2 separate regions of the Homo sapiens genome follow, and region 2 is linked to region 1. The links come from fine-mapping of genetic effects on gene expression. Tissue or cell type: whole blood. Region 1 holds a variant in brackets; the other region holds the start of a gene. All regions are shown on one strand. Distances are from middle to middle.

Evidence for each region. PIP is the estimated chance that this variant, and not a neighbour inherited with it, causes the effect.
Region 2: it holds the start of FRMD3, and the variant in region 1 is fine-mapped to the expression of FRMD3 in whole blood (TOPMed, PIP 0.98).

The regions. Positions count from the first base shown.
Region 1 is chr9:83,264,005-83,272,113 of GRCh38, forward strand. All of the region lies in intron 13 of FRMD3 (FERM domain containing 3), which reads right to left. FRMD3-AS1 (FRMD3 antisense RNA 1) reads left to right here. Exons shown (of 3, transcript NR_184120.1): 3 at 5,991-6,829. Among named protein-coding and RNA genes, the nearest start is that of FRMD3-AS1, 49 kb to the left of the region's middle. The variant C/T (reference allele first, on the strand shown) is at 3,404.
Region 2 is chr9:83,535,201-83,543,309 of GRCh38, forward strand. FRMD3 (FERM domain containing 3) reads right to left here and starts at 3,201. Exons shown (of 14, transcript NM_174938.6): 1 at 2,885-3,201. The coding sequence starts at 3,031. RefSeq lists a silencer at 1,154-1,448.

The DNA of each region.
Region 1 (8,109 bases):
CTAAAATTTGATGCAATTTCAATAGAAAATCCAACACACTTTCAAAAAAGACAAATGGTAAATGTACACATTAATAATCAAAAACTTCTGGAAAATAAATCAGTGAGCACATCCAGACAATGGAATATTATTCAGTGCTAAGAAATGCCATGAAAAGCTATAGAGGAAGCTTATATGCATATTATTCAGTGAAAGAAGCCAGTCTGAAAAGACTGCATATTGTATGATTCCAACTAATTGACATTCTGAAAAAGGCAAAATTATGAATATCATAAAAAGACCAGTGGTTGCCAGGAATTAGGGGAAGAGAGAGAGAAATAGGTGGAACACAGAACTTTTAGGGCAGTCAAACTATTATGTATGATACAACAGGGGTAGATACATGCCATTAAACATTTGTCCAAACCCACAGAATGTACACCACCAAGGTGAACCCTAACGCAAACGATCAACTTTGAATAGTCATGATGTCTCAATGCAGGCTCATCAAGTGTAACAAATGTACTTCTCTTGTGTGGGATGTTGATGATGGGGGAGGCTGAGCATGTGTGAGGGAAATTCCCCATATGTGGAAAATTTCTATGCCTTCCTTTTAATTTTACTGTGAACCTAAAAATCATTCTAAAAGTATAACTTCCTTTGAAAAAAAGCAATGCAGGGGAAACCTGACCTACCTGATATTAAAACTATACTGTATAGTAATGGAGCAGGAATAATAAAAGATATAATTCAGAAATATACCCTTTAATATAATGGAAAATTTGTTTATGAAAAAGTTTTGCAAAAAGTTGCTAACCAATTGTGGGGGGAGGGGGGAAGGTATATCCCTATACCATGTCATGCACGTGTAAAAATTCCTAAGAAGATAAAGGGTTAAACTAAAAAAAAAATTAGATACCACGTGAAATTGCCAATTTTGAAGGTCATAAGCAGTTATTATCAGCAATTTCATAGAGTTCAAGTAAATGCATTAATTATGAAGAATAAAAACAGGAAACACTTTTATAATCTTGGCATGGGGAAAACTAACATAAAAACAGAAACCTAAAATATACAGAAAGCAAATAGTTTGCACATACAGAAGTTCTCTGTGCATATAAAAAGTGCCCGTGTCGGCCAGGTGCGGTGGCTCATGCCTGTAATCCCAGTACTATAGGAGGCCAAGACGGGCGGATCACGAGGTCAGGAGATTGGGATCATCCTGGCTAACACGGTGAAACCCCGTCTCTACTAAAAATACAAAAAATTAGCCGGGCGTGGTGGCAGGCGCCTGTAATATCAGCTACTCGGGAGGCTGAGGCAGGAGAATGGTGTGAACCCGGGAGGTGGAGCTTGCAGTGAGCCGAGATGGTGCCACTGCACTCCAGCCTGGGCAACAGAGCGAGACTCTTAAAAAAAAAAAAAAAAAAAAAAAAGTGCCTGTGTCATAAAGTTAACATTAAATAAAAGTTGAAAGCCAAGAACCAATTAGGAGAGAAAACATTAACATTTGTAAAATATAAAGGATTAATATTCACATTATAAAAGAAATACTACAATCTATAAGGAAAGGACAAAAACACAATAGAAATGTACTAAGTAAACAAATAGGCAGTTCTGCAAAGAAGAAATGAAAATACACAATTATTTGAAAAGATCCTCATCTTCACTGATAAAAAGGGATATGCAAATTAAAACAATGAAATCTCATTTTCCTTTCAACCATTTTGCAAAACTTTTAAGAAACTGGCCATATCAGGGTGAGTGATTATGTGGGGGAATAGTCAAGCTCATACTCACCTTGTTAGAATTTGCTTTTAGAGGATAATTTGCCCATTTCCATTAAAAGTTACAATTCGTATATCCTTCAACCCAACAATTATACTTTGAAGCATCTATTAAAGAGAAATGCCTCTGTATACATATGCATTGCAGTACCATCTGTTACAGCCAAAAAACGAGCCATAACCATTTCCAACAATAATTTGGTAATTAAATAACTGAGTTATGATATCTTTATATTACCTAATATTATCCAGCCATTTATAAAAAGGATGTATATTAATATGTATGGATATGGAAAGTCCTTCAAGTCATATGATAAAGTAAGAAAACTAATTCTGCAATAATATATCTTGAACAATCCCATTTATAAAAAAAAAAAATCCTATATCCCATGTGGCAGTATTCATAGATCAACTATTGGGAGTATTAACGGAAAGCATCTATATATTTGTTCTTTTAAAAACTCTTTTATACAAGAACACATCATGTATTATGTCATTATACAAATATAATCAATTTCGTCTCAATTCACTTAGAAGTCAGTTTCACACATGTGCATGAGATATAGCCAATTACAGACATTTTCCAGGTTGTATTTTGTGTTAATCAATTGGTAAAAACCACATTTATACATATAGCCACAGCTTCTTTCTTGCTGTAAGCTCTAACTTTTTAAGTTCCTATTTCAATTCCTATTTCCCTCAAGGACCATAAAATAACAAAATATATTTACAATGAAAAGGAAATTGGCAGAAGGTCAGTTCCAATTCTTTGGCCAATATTTTGAGTAAAGCTCTGCCTTGAGGATAAAAGTGGTGCTCCGCCTCACCCCAGCAAGCAAGCAGATCTGAGCTCTGACCCTTTCAACAATGAAAGGAGGGGGAGCGTGTTGTGATCATCCATTCTGCCTTCTCCCTAATCTTCTCATGTTATGGAACAATCTGGAGGTACACACCACCACTGCCTCCCTCTCCCTCCTGACTCACTGCTGACTAGGGTGTAATTTGTATTTATGACAACTTTATATCATTTGGAACACACCCTCCTGTTTCCCCTTTGCACTGGCTTGCTCACCCTCCTTCCCACTCGTCTCTGCTTTTCTCCCTTCCTCTCTCTCTTTTCATCCTTATCAAAAACCTCTGACACCAAATTCACCCTGGGCCTCTCTCCACCAGCAGTGAGCAGGAAGCTGGAAGCCCGCACACTTCAGGAACAGGATGACAGCCCAGGGCACCACACATACCAGTGTTACGAGCTGTGACCTTGGAGCCGAGTCTCAGCAGACGAACAAACACATTACTGTTGCAGTGGTTCACCATGTGCAATTGGAGGCTTCGTCGAGTCTGGATCTTGACCAAGCATTTTGCCATACTGGTTATTCCAATCCCCTTGGTCTCCTCGGCCTGCATGGCCCAGGGCAGCCTTTCCCTAACAGTCCATTCTGTTTTAAAGGACCTAGGCAGGACCCACTGAATGAATCAAATGTCAGGTTCCTAATGCGGCCAACAGAAATAACTCATGAGGGATCAGCATTGGGAGGGGAGGAGGGAGGGGACGCTATTTTTAAACTCTCCACTCACCCCTCTAACAAACAATGAAAGATTATGCATCATCCCTACTCTAGCCTTTCTAAACCTTC[C/T]GGACCAAAACAGAGGACCCTGTCCAAATGCCTCATCATTTCCTAAGAATCAAATGTCCCCAAAAGATAAGATGACAACTGGATAATTCCATAATGGAGAAATAACCCACTTTTTCTTCTAAAAATTGCTCCTCCAGCCTTTATTATATTCTACAGCAGTACTGTCCAGTAAGATTATAACACAAGCCACTTCAAAGAGGGAAAAAAAGCATTTAAAAAGCAAAATAAATGTATTACAATTAATTTTAATAATGTGTTTTATTTGAAATCGAGATATTCAAATAGTATCTCAACAGGTAATGATATCAAAATTTATTAATAATTAATCAACTCTTTTATTAATAAAGAGTTTGCATTCTTTTTTGGGACGAAGCCTTTGGAATTAGTGTGTGTTGCACACTGCACATGTATAGCACATCTCAATTCGAACCAGCTCCATTTCAAGTGTTCAGTAGCTATATATGGTTGCTGTCATGGTAATCTCAGCTCTTTTCAAAGTGCTGGATTCCTCACATGCCTTATCTCCATCTCATAACAATGCTAATCTTTTCTTCACTTTACAGATAAGGAAACGACAACTTAGAGAGAGTAACTGACCTGACCACAATCACGAAGTTAGTAAGTGGCAAAGCCATGATTTGAACCTAGGCTTCCAATTAATATCGGCTGACTAAAGTTAGTGTTCTAAATGCAGGTGCCATGCAACCACTACATTCTGACTTTTCATGAAAAGGATGAGAAGAAAAAATTTTCCTCACACAATTTCAACACGCCTGCATACATTCTTCTACTTTAAATATCTGTCACCAAAAGATGATTTTCTAATAATCCTCTATGAAACAAAGGTTTATTCAGAGCAGGAATTGAAATTCCATGTTGTTATGCATCAATATAAAATTGATTTAGCATTTCTGGAAAGAAAATTAGCAAAATACATGGATTTTTATAGCTGTGGTATTCTTTGAACCAGAAATTCCACTTTTAAGAATTAACCCTGAGAAAATAATCAGAAATGCTGACAAAAATCTTAAGACAAAGATGTTCATCAGAGTATCATTTATTATAGCCAAAAATGTTTTTTAAGTCAACCTATATTTCCAGTGGGAAAATGGTTAAATACATGTGATGAAATATTGCACAGACATTAAAATTCATGTTTAGAAGAATTTAATGATGTGAGAAAATGCTTGCAATATACTACTAACTGAAAAAAGCATCTTTATATAAATGGTGTGGCATCGACTATGTAAAACTGCACACAGGATAAATGTAAGACCAGACAGTAAATCCCAGAAGGGAAAAAGGGTGTTGCCAGCCATGCACTGTGGCTGAGGTGGGGCAGGCCATTTCCAGGGACCTCAATGGGCCCCCCACTCCCCTCTCCTGGGTGAGCAGCCTCCAGTGTGGCAGAGGAGTTCCTACTCTCACAGGAGTTAGTTAATTTTCAACCCTGAAGCTTGAAAGGAAAATATCCCTAAAAGTTCTCAAAATCTTCAACCCTTTGCAATTCCCCCTGATTATATAATTCTGAGCAGAATCCCCAGGTTTAAAACAGATAGACTGACGCAAAGGTGGGGCCCAGGACTAGTACCTACTACACCTCCCTCACTAGTCACCAACAATGGTTCTTGAAGAACTACTAAAAATCTTTAGGACACTGAAGAACAAATCTGAAAATCACTGTTCACAATAAATCACTACTTTGCAGTAACACACGATGAATTTCATAGATTAACCGGGGCTCATTTGCATGGCAGTAGGCCATGGCTCAATACTGAGGAAATCTCCCTTTGGCCTGTCTGAAGGGAATATAGATAAATCTTTATGTTTATCATCATGTTAAAACAACATATGACCTGACAGCTCACTTGAAACAAACAGACCTTCCAAAGACAAAAGAGAAAACAAGTAAAAAACCTGAAACAAAACTATCACCATATTTTATTTCTGTTTTTTTCTACCAGGATAGTTATTCTCCATAATTCTCAAGCTTAACATCTCACCATTGTTTCAAATGCCTCCTTCCTACCTTTCATTTTAAAAGTATTATTATCTTTGGGAGGCCGAGGCCGGCAGATCACTTGAGATCAGGAGTTCAAAACAAGCCTGGCCAACATGGTGAAACCCCATCTCTATTAAAAATACAAAAAAATTAGCCAGGCGTGGTGGCGGGCACCTGTAATCCCAGGTACTCGGGAGGCTGAGGCAGGAGAATTGCATAAACCCGGGAGGCGGAGGTTGCAGCAAGCCGAGATCTCACCGCCGCACTCTAGCCTGGGAGACAGAGTGAGACTCTGTCTCAAAAAACAAAAGTATTATTATTATTTTACTATAAACAAACAAACAAAAGTATTATTATTATTTTAACTATAGCCAGTCATAATATTTAGCATTTCACATGTTTTTCACTTTTTCCCCTCTTAAACCTGCTCTCACTCTTTACGCTACTTTTCAGAGATCGTAAGTAGATTCCTTTACTCTTGCTTTTTATGGATCTTCTCCTTTCATGGAGAAAGATAAGCTAGCAAGACAAGCATTCTATATTGCCTCAGCCATTTCTCTCTACCTTGTCTGACTCTGCCCACAGGGGTGTCTACCTTTCAAGAGGAACAAGAAAAGAGAGGTGGGAATATGGAACCAAGCCAAAGATTCTGCAGGATCCTGCACAGTGAGCATTGTTCTGGTTCAGGCCACTGTGCTCAACTGAACAGTATCAGTAGCACAACATTTGGATGCCCTTGAATACTGTTCCTGTTTCAATTCATTTGTTTGTCTGAGAATTGGGAATGCATGTCTGGGCAGTGACAAGAGGCCAAAGAAAGCAGAAGATGTGTGAAGAGGAGAATCGATTTTCCATAATGAGATGTCAGAAACACTGCTTGCTAAGTCAGCCTGAAACCAAAGAAGAAGAATGGCATTCAGTGATAAGAACTGTTCATGAGCCTGAATTCCATGGCTGCTCCTGCACAAACCACCGGACACAGATCCGGGGAAAGGCAACAAAGTTGCCTCTACTTTGTGAGTGGCTAGAAGTTACTGGACATCTGGGAGCCCTGGTGCCTTGACTGTAAAATGGAGACAACAACTCCTCTCATGGTTGTTATGACAAGGAAATGAGAGATACATATCAAGTGCCTAACATAGAGCTGGCTCCTATGAACCAGAACTTATTAAGCAATTGTAGAAGGCAAGATTTAAAGCACAGACTTTGGAGCAGTCCTTGGGTTCCAATCCTGGCTGCATCGTTTATCATCTCTGAGCCTCAGTTTCCACATCTGTAACAAAAGCTTTCATTTTACAGATGTAAAAGCAGTGTGTACCTCCAAGGGGTGGTTGTGAGGATTAATCAAGTTAATACACATGGCATTCTCAGATCAGTGCCTTGCACGGCAATTTACTCAATAAATGTTAGCGATTTTTTTTCAATACATGGTCATTTTTTTTTTTTTTGGTCTCTTTTTAACTGCTCAAGAGGAAGACTGTGAGGATTTTAAATAGCCTGGATTCTCTTCCTTCTGTCAACCATATGTCTTAACATACTATTACGAGTTACTCCTCCCCAATAGTAGCAGTATTGCTGGTTGTGAGGAGTTAACCCGGCCATGCCTATTACCTTGGGAAACCTACAGAAGCCTGCTGAATGCAATTTTCTATCTGCAAAATGGTGAGGATACTGGGTGTTTACATGACTGGGTTCCTGACATGGAATAGGCATTTAATAAATACTAACTATAATTATATCATCATCAATATCATGCAATTTATCTACATTAGAAACCAACAGACTTGACAAGTATAGTGGAGTCAGCCATTAGTTAAAATAGTTTGAGAGATTCACTGAAATTTTAGCTAACTGCTAGCTCCAAGTGGAAAGATAATAAATTATTATTACATTCATTAAATGTTCTTTGTAATCAGGTTAGACATTAAGTATCCATTAAAAAGAGTCCTTGGGACTAACATATACTTCAGAGGACTTTTTAAAGATTGTATTAATAAAACATATAAACAATAATTTTAATAATATATTTATGATAGGAGGGGTATATTCTTGGGTATACAGTAAAAAGAAAGGGAAGCTGTTCCCAACATCACTGAGAGACTGAGAGAAAGGACCATATGGCCAGGTAATCAACCATTTGTATAACTTAATTTCCTTGTTTGGAAAGTGAGACAACAGTATCTGTTCTATCCAATTCAAAGAAATGGTCATGAGTGTCAAATTATGATAACTTACATGAACAAAACCCTGGAAATGCATAAGATGCTTTGGCATATTAGACACTGTTCCTCTTATGATTTCCCATATCAGACTGAATGTTTCCTGCCTGTAAGCTGAGATAACTGCTCTCTGGGGCCCAGCATCACCTTGTAGAGTCTGGGGAAAGGTCAATAAAAATCCTCTGGAGAATACAGTTGCAGACAAAGTATAGTTCAAGCAGCACAGCTGGGCATTCTTCAACACCACTGTTCTCAGTAGCTCTAAGACCTCCTTATCATGACTTACTTCCTTGTATTTTCCTGACTCTCCAACTTATTTATAAACGGAAAAGAGCACATCATTCAAAGCAGTCGGTTAACTTAGGTAAGGAAAGCCAACAAGCATGATTGTGACTCAAGATAGTTGCTCTTGTTAAGTCACTGCTCCTGCTCTCCCTCTCCCTCCCCCTCCCCCTCTCCCTCCATCTCTGTCTCCCTCTCTCTCC
Region 2 (8,109 bases), 270 kb after region 1:
CTCATGAGAGATGCTCAAGAAATGGCACCTAGAGCTATTCACATTGTCTCAAGCAATAGTCCTGAAGGTTTCTATCATCTCTTGCATCTACCATGTGTGGCCACTCTCCAGCACCTTGCTAGAGAAACCTGTTTGAGTGGCTCATTTTTCTTTGAATCTGGAATGCTTACCTACTAGAGAACACAGACTAATGAGCTCCCAAGGATGTGTGGCTTGAGTTTCCCCTACTTATTTTGGGGCTCCATAGGCAGCACTCCTGTAGTGAACAGGAGTGAACAACTAACACATGTCCAAGAGCTCCTGCTCCTCCTACAGAGCCTCTAGATCAAGCTCATCCAACCCATGGCCCAGGACAGCTTTGGATGCAGCCCAACAGAAATTCATAAACTTTCTTAAAACATTATGAGACTTTTTGTGATTTTTTTTTTTTTAGCTCATCAGCTATCGTTAGCGTTAGTGTATTTTATGTGTGGCCCAAGACAATTCTTCTTCTTCCAATGTGGCCCAGGGAAGCCAGAAAATTGGACACCCCTGCTCCAGAGCCAGGCAGACACCAGGGATGAGAGCTCCTAACGCAGACAGGCAGATGTGGGCTATGGAGAGAGGGTGACATTCTGTGACAATATATACAATCCTTTAACTTTGTAGTTCTATAGAAGGAAGGAAGCAAACACAGATGGATTCACCCAGAACAAGTGCCAGTAATTCCAAATGGTTTTGTTTCGCATTGTTTTTTAATCCTTTTGTTCTCACTCTAAGCAAATGGGAAGTCTTTGTTACCTGATACCCGGAAGGGCAATTTCAATTCCTGGTCTGGAGTACTCTAGGAAAGTGTGAGGTCTAAAGTTATCCAAATAAAATATTTTAATTTATTTTAATTGGTTAAATAATAATTGTAATTTGGGGGCAGAAAGGGCAGAAAAAGACAAATCACAAAATGAAACATCATAATTTTTTAAAAATCAGTGCCCAAGCCAACATTTTGAAACATAACATTTTAACCTCTTTGGCACTAGTTGGGTCATAAGCACTGGAGTTTTTCAAACTGTTGTTAGACTGGCTACAATTTATTGTTTCTCAAAACACAAGACAACAAATACATGTCCTTTGGGGAATATTTATTATTCTAAGGAAGACTTCATCCTGAGGGAGGGGAAAAAAATGTCAACACCAAGTGGTACAGGGCAGAAGAGGGCTGAGAGACAGAGGAGAACTCAACAGCCTCTCTCCCTGACGGCCCCTCCATCATCTACACATTCATTATGGGTTAAAGGACCTGTACACCCACTTTAGGACTTAAAGCAAAGTGCACAGTCCACACTCTCTGGATCACAAGACTATTAGTACATGCCAGATGCTTCTGTGCAACCCTTGTGGCAGTAGAAACACTGCCTATCCTGCTAATCCTTTTATTATTAAGTTTAGCAGTGCTGCTTAGCTCAGAATGAAATTCAAGCTCCCCCAGAAAATTCAATGGGAGCCTACTTTCCTGGGAGATCATGGGGCATCACATTCCTACCTTGACACTTGTCCGGCTGTCAGGTTACAAATTAATTGCAACTGCCCCCAACATGTCACACACTCCCACTAACAAAAATTAAATAAAAATAAAACAGGGAAAGTCCTTTCATTCCTTCATGGTTTGCACAGCCTAGAGGCTGATTCCTACTCTGGGAGATGCTGCCCCACTCACCTCCCACTGACATGGGTGGTGTGCCCTGTATTACACTAAAAAAAAAAAAAAAAAAAAAAAGCTCAGTCCCAGAGCCTCAAGACTCGACTAGGGTAGGTGAGAAAGGAAATCCCAGAGATAAACAGTTAAATAGATTTAGAAGTCAGAAGTTAATTGTGCTGAGCCCTGACACAACCTTTCCTGATTGTGTGCGCACCGAGTGGGGCATCTTTGGGGTCCTGGAAGAGGGGCTCCCACCTGCCTACATATTCACCCACAGCAAATATGCACACGCACGCGCAACCACATGCACACACACACCTTTGCACCTCACACTAGCTCTCCTGACAGCCCAGAGGCACTTACTACCCGAGGACAGGGCTGCCAGCAAAGCTGCCTTCTCCCAAACAACTCGCCTTCTCCTCCAACTTGGGCGACAGTGAATGTCCACCAAGATTCCACGGGGCTCTTTTACCCAGGACCCAGGTTCCTGCAGGGCTCCCCACTTGCTGGCCTCACAATCCCTTTTCCTTTCTCCGAAACACTCAGACTTCACACATTCCTTTCGAGGTAGCTCCAGTCCGGCGCAGCGCGCGCTCCATCCCTCAAGGCTGGCGCCCAGGGCAGCCCGGCCTCTCTCACTCTGGGGAAACTTCGCCACCGCCCCACGCGGAGAACTAAAGACCACCGGCGGAGGGTGAGGGGGACCGACACGGAGCGGAAAGCAGGTTCCGGGACTGAGGGCGTCTCCGGAGCCTGGGCGCGGGAGACAGAAATGAGTGAACCCAGCTGATGCATGCCTTCTCCACGTGGAAGAAGGGAGGAAATACCAGTGGGCGACATGCAGGTGCCCCTCTCAGCCCTCGGAGCTCCCATCTCCTGGCGGAGTAGGGCCCAGAGGGGCCAGAGTCCCTCCGGAGGCAGCTGCCCCGCGCCCCTAGCCCGGGCGCAGTGAGACGCGCGCGCAGGGTGCACGCGAGGGGAAGGAGACTGGGCGCGGATAACGCGTGCCTGGCGCTTGCAGGGCACCATGCCCCTCCATGCCAGGATAAGGCCCCCCACCCTCAGAGGCCTGAGGAATCGAAATCTGGCTTTCTAGCAGTCCCCCAATCCCCTCCGGGAGTGGGTTCCTTGTTCTCGCATGCCCACCGCAAAGGCCCCCCGCCCTGCTCCCGGCGTGTGCCCCGCGCCCTCGCCCGGTTCCACGCGCACCTGGATGTGGCAGGAGATCTCCGAGTCGTCCAGCAGCCGGATGGTGCATCTCATCTCCTGGCTGAGCGATTTGACGCTGGAGCTCCGAAAGTGGATCATTTTCATGGTCCTCCTGCCTCTCGGCACACAGTGGCAGGAGGCGAACATGCACCGCGGCCGTGGGGAGCGAGCGGGAGGCTCAGGGCCGGCGCGGTGCTCGCCTGCGCGGACACACACGCTCGCACGCACTGTCCGGGACACCTGGGCGCGGCTCAGCCCCGGGACATCGGCAGCGTCGGGCGCCTGCGGACACACATGCCCAGCGGCCGGGGCGCGGCGGGCGGGTCCCTCCCTCTGTTCGCTCGCCTCCGCCTCGCCCCCTCCTTTCCCCGCCTCCTTCTGTCGCGCGCGCTCGTGCGCCTCCCTCTGCCCGGGCTCGCTCGCCGAGGACGCCCAGAGCCTGAGACCCCCGGCGGGCTCGCGACGCACTCACTCCCACGCGCGCCGAGCAGCTGAAGGAGGAGGCGGAGGGATGGCTGGCGCGGCTGGCCCGGGTGCCCTGGTGGTGGCCTGCTCAGTCGCAGCCGCCGCTGCGTCAAGCTGGGCCCGACTGCCTTCCTCAGCCTCACCGCCTCCTCCCTCCCCTGGCCGCTGTCGCTCGGGCTCCCGGTTGTGCTCGTCCCGGCCCCGGCTCCCCAACGCGCTCGACAGCGCCCTGCTCTGCTCAGCTCCAGGGACCTGGCGCGGGTAGGGGACGGAGAGCGATCCTGACCCACACCGCCAGGGGGATTCCGCCTCGGGAAAGGATTGCTGGGCCCAGGGCGAGTGACAGAGAGAGTGACAGCCCTGACACGGCTACACCAGGAATATCGCTAATAGTAAAAATCTCTGGTACTCATGGAGATTGTTTAAGCCATTGTTTTATTTAATGCTAGCTAGGACTCAGTCTCTTTCTCCAAAAAAGAGCCTTCCATGTGCAAATCCTCCTTTAAATCTCCCAACATCTTAGTGTGATCTTTGATAGCATACCTTTGACCCGAGCAAGAGGGATAGGTTCCTATCCTACTCCCCTGCTTTACAGACCTCCTCCAGTTCCCGGTTGCTCAGGAATTAAGAGGTCTAATGGCAAAGCGGATGTGCCCCATCCCGTTTTAGTCCAATCTCTGGGTATTGAGGACTCTGGAATTCCCCACGCGCCTCCAGGGTGTTGAAGGTAGGAGGTATCCTGCCTCTCTGTTGTCCCCAAGGTGGCTAGAGCCACTGTGTCAGGTACCGTAGGCCCGAGAGTGGCCAGGAGCAGCTGTTGAGTCAGGGGTATGGAGCTTGAATGTGAGCACTAGAATGTCCAGGAGCTGGGAGAGATGGAAGTCCTCTCACCCTGTTGCTCTTGCCGGAGCAGAACAGGTCATTAGGAAGGAACATTTGTTAGAAGAGGAGGTGTTGACCAGCTGTCAGCTTTTTCAAGGTTTGTGCCTGCATAGAGTCCCCTCATCCAAAGATATGCCCTGTCCTGGGGGTCGAGGAAGAGTGGCACACAAATTTTACCTGCCCTGGACAGTCTGGTGGGCCATATATTCTCTAGGACACCTAGTGGGGTTGGCTAAGGTTTGGGGGAGTCCGCATTGCATTTGGACTTCTCTCTCTGCCTGCTCCTGCCTCCTCTCCCTGTTGATCACTAATAAATACCACACAGGACAAACTCAGTCTCAGTATCTGCTCCTGGAAATTCCAAATTGCAACAATTTGTCAAGATAGGAGGATAGAGAATGTTTTATGTAGCACTCAATAGCTGACTATTGCTTATGAATATTTAGATGATAGTATGGGGCATTCATGTAGGCTCTTGAGCTGGGCCCTTCAAATGTTAGGGCAGATCCTGATGGAGAGGTCAGTATTGAGGGTATGGGAAGATGTGGATTTCATTCTTGGCCCAGCTACTGGCTAATCCTGGGGATCTTTGAAAAGTCTCTCCATTTCTTTTCTCATTTCAAAGGAGAGAACACCTGTTCATCCCACAGGTGGCTGGGAAGCTGGTATGACACCGGGTCAGTGGAGGACATCTTACAGCTGTAATCTGTAAATCCCCATATGCACATATGAGGTGGCAGGGATGGGACCTGCCCCAAGTTGAAAACTGGATCATCTCTGCTAGCCAAAAGAGCAGACAGCCCAGAGATCAAAGAAAAGTCACCAGCCAAACAGTCCATGCTTTTCTTTTAAGACCACACACACACTTGTCCATCCTATTATAGTGACCGTTAGGCTCCAAAAGAGTCATATCAATACCCAAAAATTGTTACCCCAAATTCCAAGGAAGCAAAATAAGACCAACAAGGACAGTAGTGAAAAAGACAGAATAAAGATAACCCAATGTGGGACTGTAAGAAACAGAATTTTGAAGAAATGAGAAGAATCTGAGATTGGTTGTCTGGCCTGATTAGGAATAAAGGCTGAGATTCAACTAGTATGAAAATACAGGCTCTGGAAGCACTTGGCATGACAGCTAGGTAAATTACCAAGTATGGTCACCTGGATTGAACTACCCAATGAAGACAAGGCTCTGGGAAACCAACTGGCCATTGTCAACAATAATAATAATAATATGAAGATTAGGAAGAACTCAAAGAATGAACTCAAGGGATGAGTTTAAAACTGGACCACTGAAAGAAAAGTAGTGATGCACTAAGTCCTAAATTATCAGCTTATGACTTTTAAACAACTGTATTTTTACAAACAACAGAGCTCAAAGAATATCTTGTTAATTGAGCCACAAGGCCAAAACTGAAAAACCAAATTCACAATTTCATCTACAAATCGCCAAATTACAAAGTCAATTGAATTATCGGCCTCACAAGATTTTATAATTATCAGCAGGAAAGAGTGGGAATCTGGGAATAAGAATAGGACTATAAAAGAAAACTTGAATGATTCCTAGTCACTCAAGCCCCCAAACTCCCTTGGCAGCAGAAGCATGCCCTCTTCCTTATGTAACGAGGCTGTTCCTGCTTTGTTTGAAGATCCTCTTCGGAACTCACTTAAGGCAGTTACCTTGGAAAGGGAAGCCGATCTCCTCCCACCCCTCTCCCACCATCTCTGACTACTCTCACTCTTAATACTTGAACCAGATTCAGTCACACCCTAGGAGACCAACTATAAAGTCAACCCCAAGAAGAGAAAGAATTGCAAGATTCTGCTAATTTACATTGAAGAGTATATGTGTGAATAAACCTGAATCTGTCCATTTGAATTCACTTCCCAATGACTCTGGTTTCAATGTACTATCTAAATTGACTAACTGACTTCTGGACTCAGCTAAATGAAGATGAGAAAAAGGAAATTCCCTGGTACATGTACAGGAAAAGATCCAAAGAATCAAGGAGATGGAAATATTGCAGTGTATTTCCACATGTGGCCAGCTTACCTCTCTTTAACTGTGTCCCCTGAGGGGGCATCCACCAAGATTTTCAAAGAATCATTGGCAAAGGAAGGACTGCCATCTTTGAAAAGCACCAAAGTGGCTGTTCTTTGTAGCAAGAGATGGTTGTGAAAGACACTGCAGTCAAAAGGAGCTCCCTGACTTAAATGGGAAGGATGAGAGCCTGGGCTGGCAGAAGACAAATAGTGGTGCATGACTTAACCCTCAGTGCCAGGGAGGGCTTGGTACAATCATAAGCAGTGGTACCCAAGTAGACTTCAGAATGGTGTGACTCATAGGGATTTTGCTGGTGGCCAAGCATCCAACTAGGACTCAATTTGATCTATAGGACAAACAAGATTTCTACACCAGGTGAACAAAGGCCAGGCTAAAATCCCCCTACAAATATTCCCAAATCTGAACCTGTCCCCCAAAGACAACCAGAAACATTTTTTTATTTTTTATTATTATTATTATTTTTTACCGATTGGGTCCCACTATGTTGCTCAGGCTGGTCTCGAACTTCTGGCCCCAGTCAATCCTCCTGCTTGAGCCTCCCAAGTAGCTGGGATGACAGGCAACAAACAGAGGACATTTGAGTACAGGAAAGGTGGCTCCACTTGAGGCATTAGAATGTCAGCCATAGCAGTGGCTGCAAGTCCAGTTCTTACTAAAGAAGTGGCAATGGGTGAGATTAATTAGTGTCTCACGCTCAGTGATAGTAACTGATATTCTTTACCAAAAAATATGCCTAACCAATGGGTTATAACACTTTGGTAAGCCACAAATAGATAACAGGTGGCCTGCCCACAAAAGATTGATGGTTGTAAATATTGCATCTTGAATTTTTTCATTTTAAGCACTTTTACAGCCATTAAAATTGATAACTTAAAAAGAAATATTTAGGTATAAATCTAACAAAATATGCACAAGATCTTTATGAGGAAAACTACAAGACTCTGGTGAAAGAAATCAAAGAACTAAATAAATGGAGAGCTATTCCATGTTCATGGATAGGAAGACTCAATACTGTTAAGATTTCAGGTCTTCCCAAATTGATCTATAGGTTAAGTGCAACCCAAGTCAAAACCTGAGCTAGTTACTTTGTGGATATCAGCAAACTTTTTTTAAAGTTTATATGGAAAGGCAAAAACCCAGAGTAGCTAACACAATACTGAAGAAAAACAAACTCAGATGACTGATATTACCTGACTTTAAGACTTAATATAAAACCAAAGTGATCAAGGCAGTATGGTACTGGCAAAAGAATAAACAAATTGATCAGTGGAACAAAATAGAGGGACCAGAAAGAAACCCACACAAATACAGTCAATTGATATTTGACAAAGAAGCAAAGTCAGTCCAATGGAGAAAGGATAATCTTTTTGACAAATGGTGCTGGAAAAACTAGACATTCACATGCAAAAAAATGAGTATAGACATAGACCACACACTGTTCACAAATTTTAAGTCAAAATAAATCATTGACTCACATGTAAACAATAAAACTTCTAGGAGATAACATGAGGGAAAATTTAGGTAATCTTCAGTTTGGTGATAAAAATCAACAAACATCAACACATCAAAAGCATAAGTTGGACTCAGTTAAAATGTAAAACTTTTAGGGCAGCTTCAAGATGGCTGACTGGAGACACTGATCACCCAATCTCCCCAAAAAAGAAGAACCAAAGTTAGAGGTGAAAAATCATAACTCAAAAGATTAAGAGACGAGTGTGAAGGCCTATTGGAAAATTCACAAGCAGAAGCTAGGGCACAGAAAAAAGGAGGAGGCAAGAATTTGGCAGAAATTGAATCCTGAAGGACTTGGGGT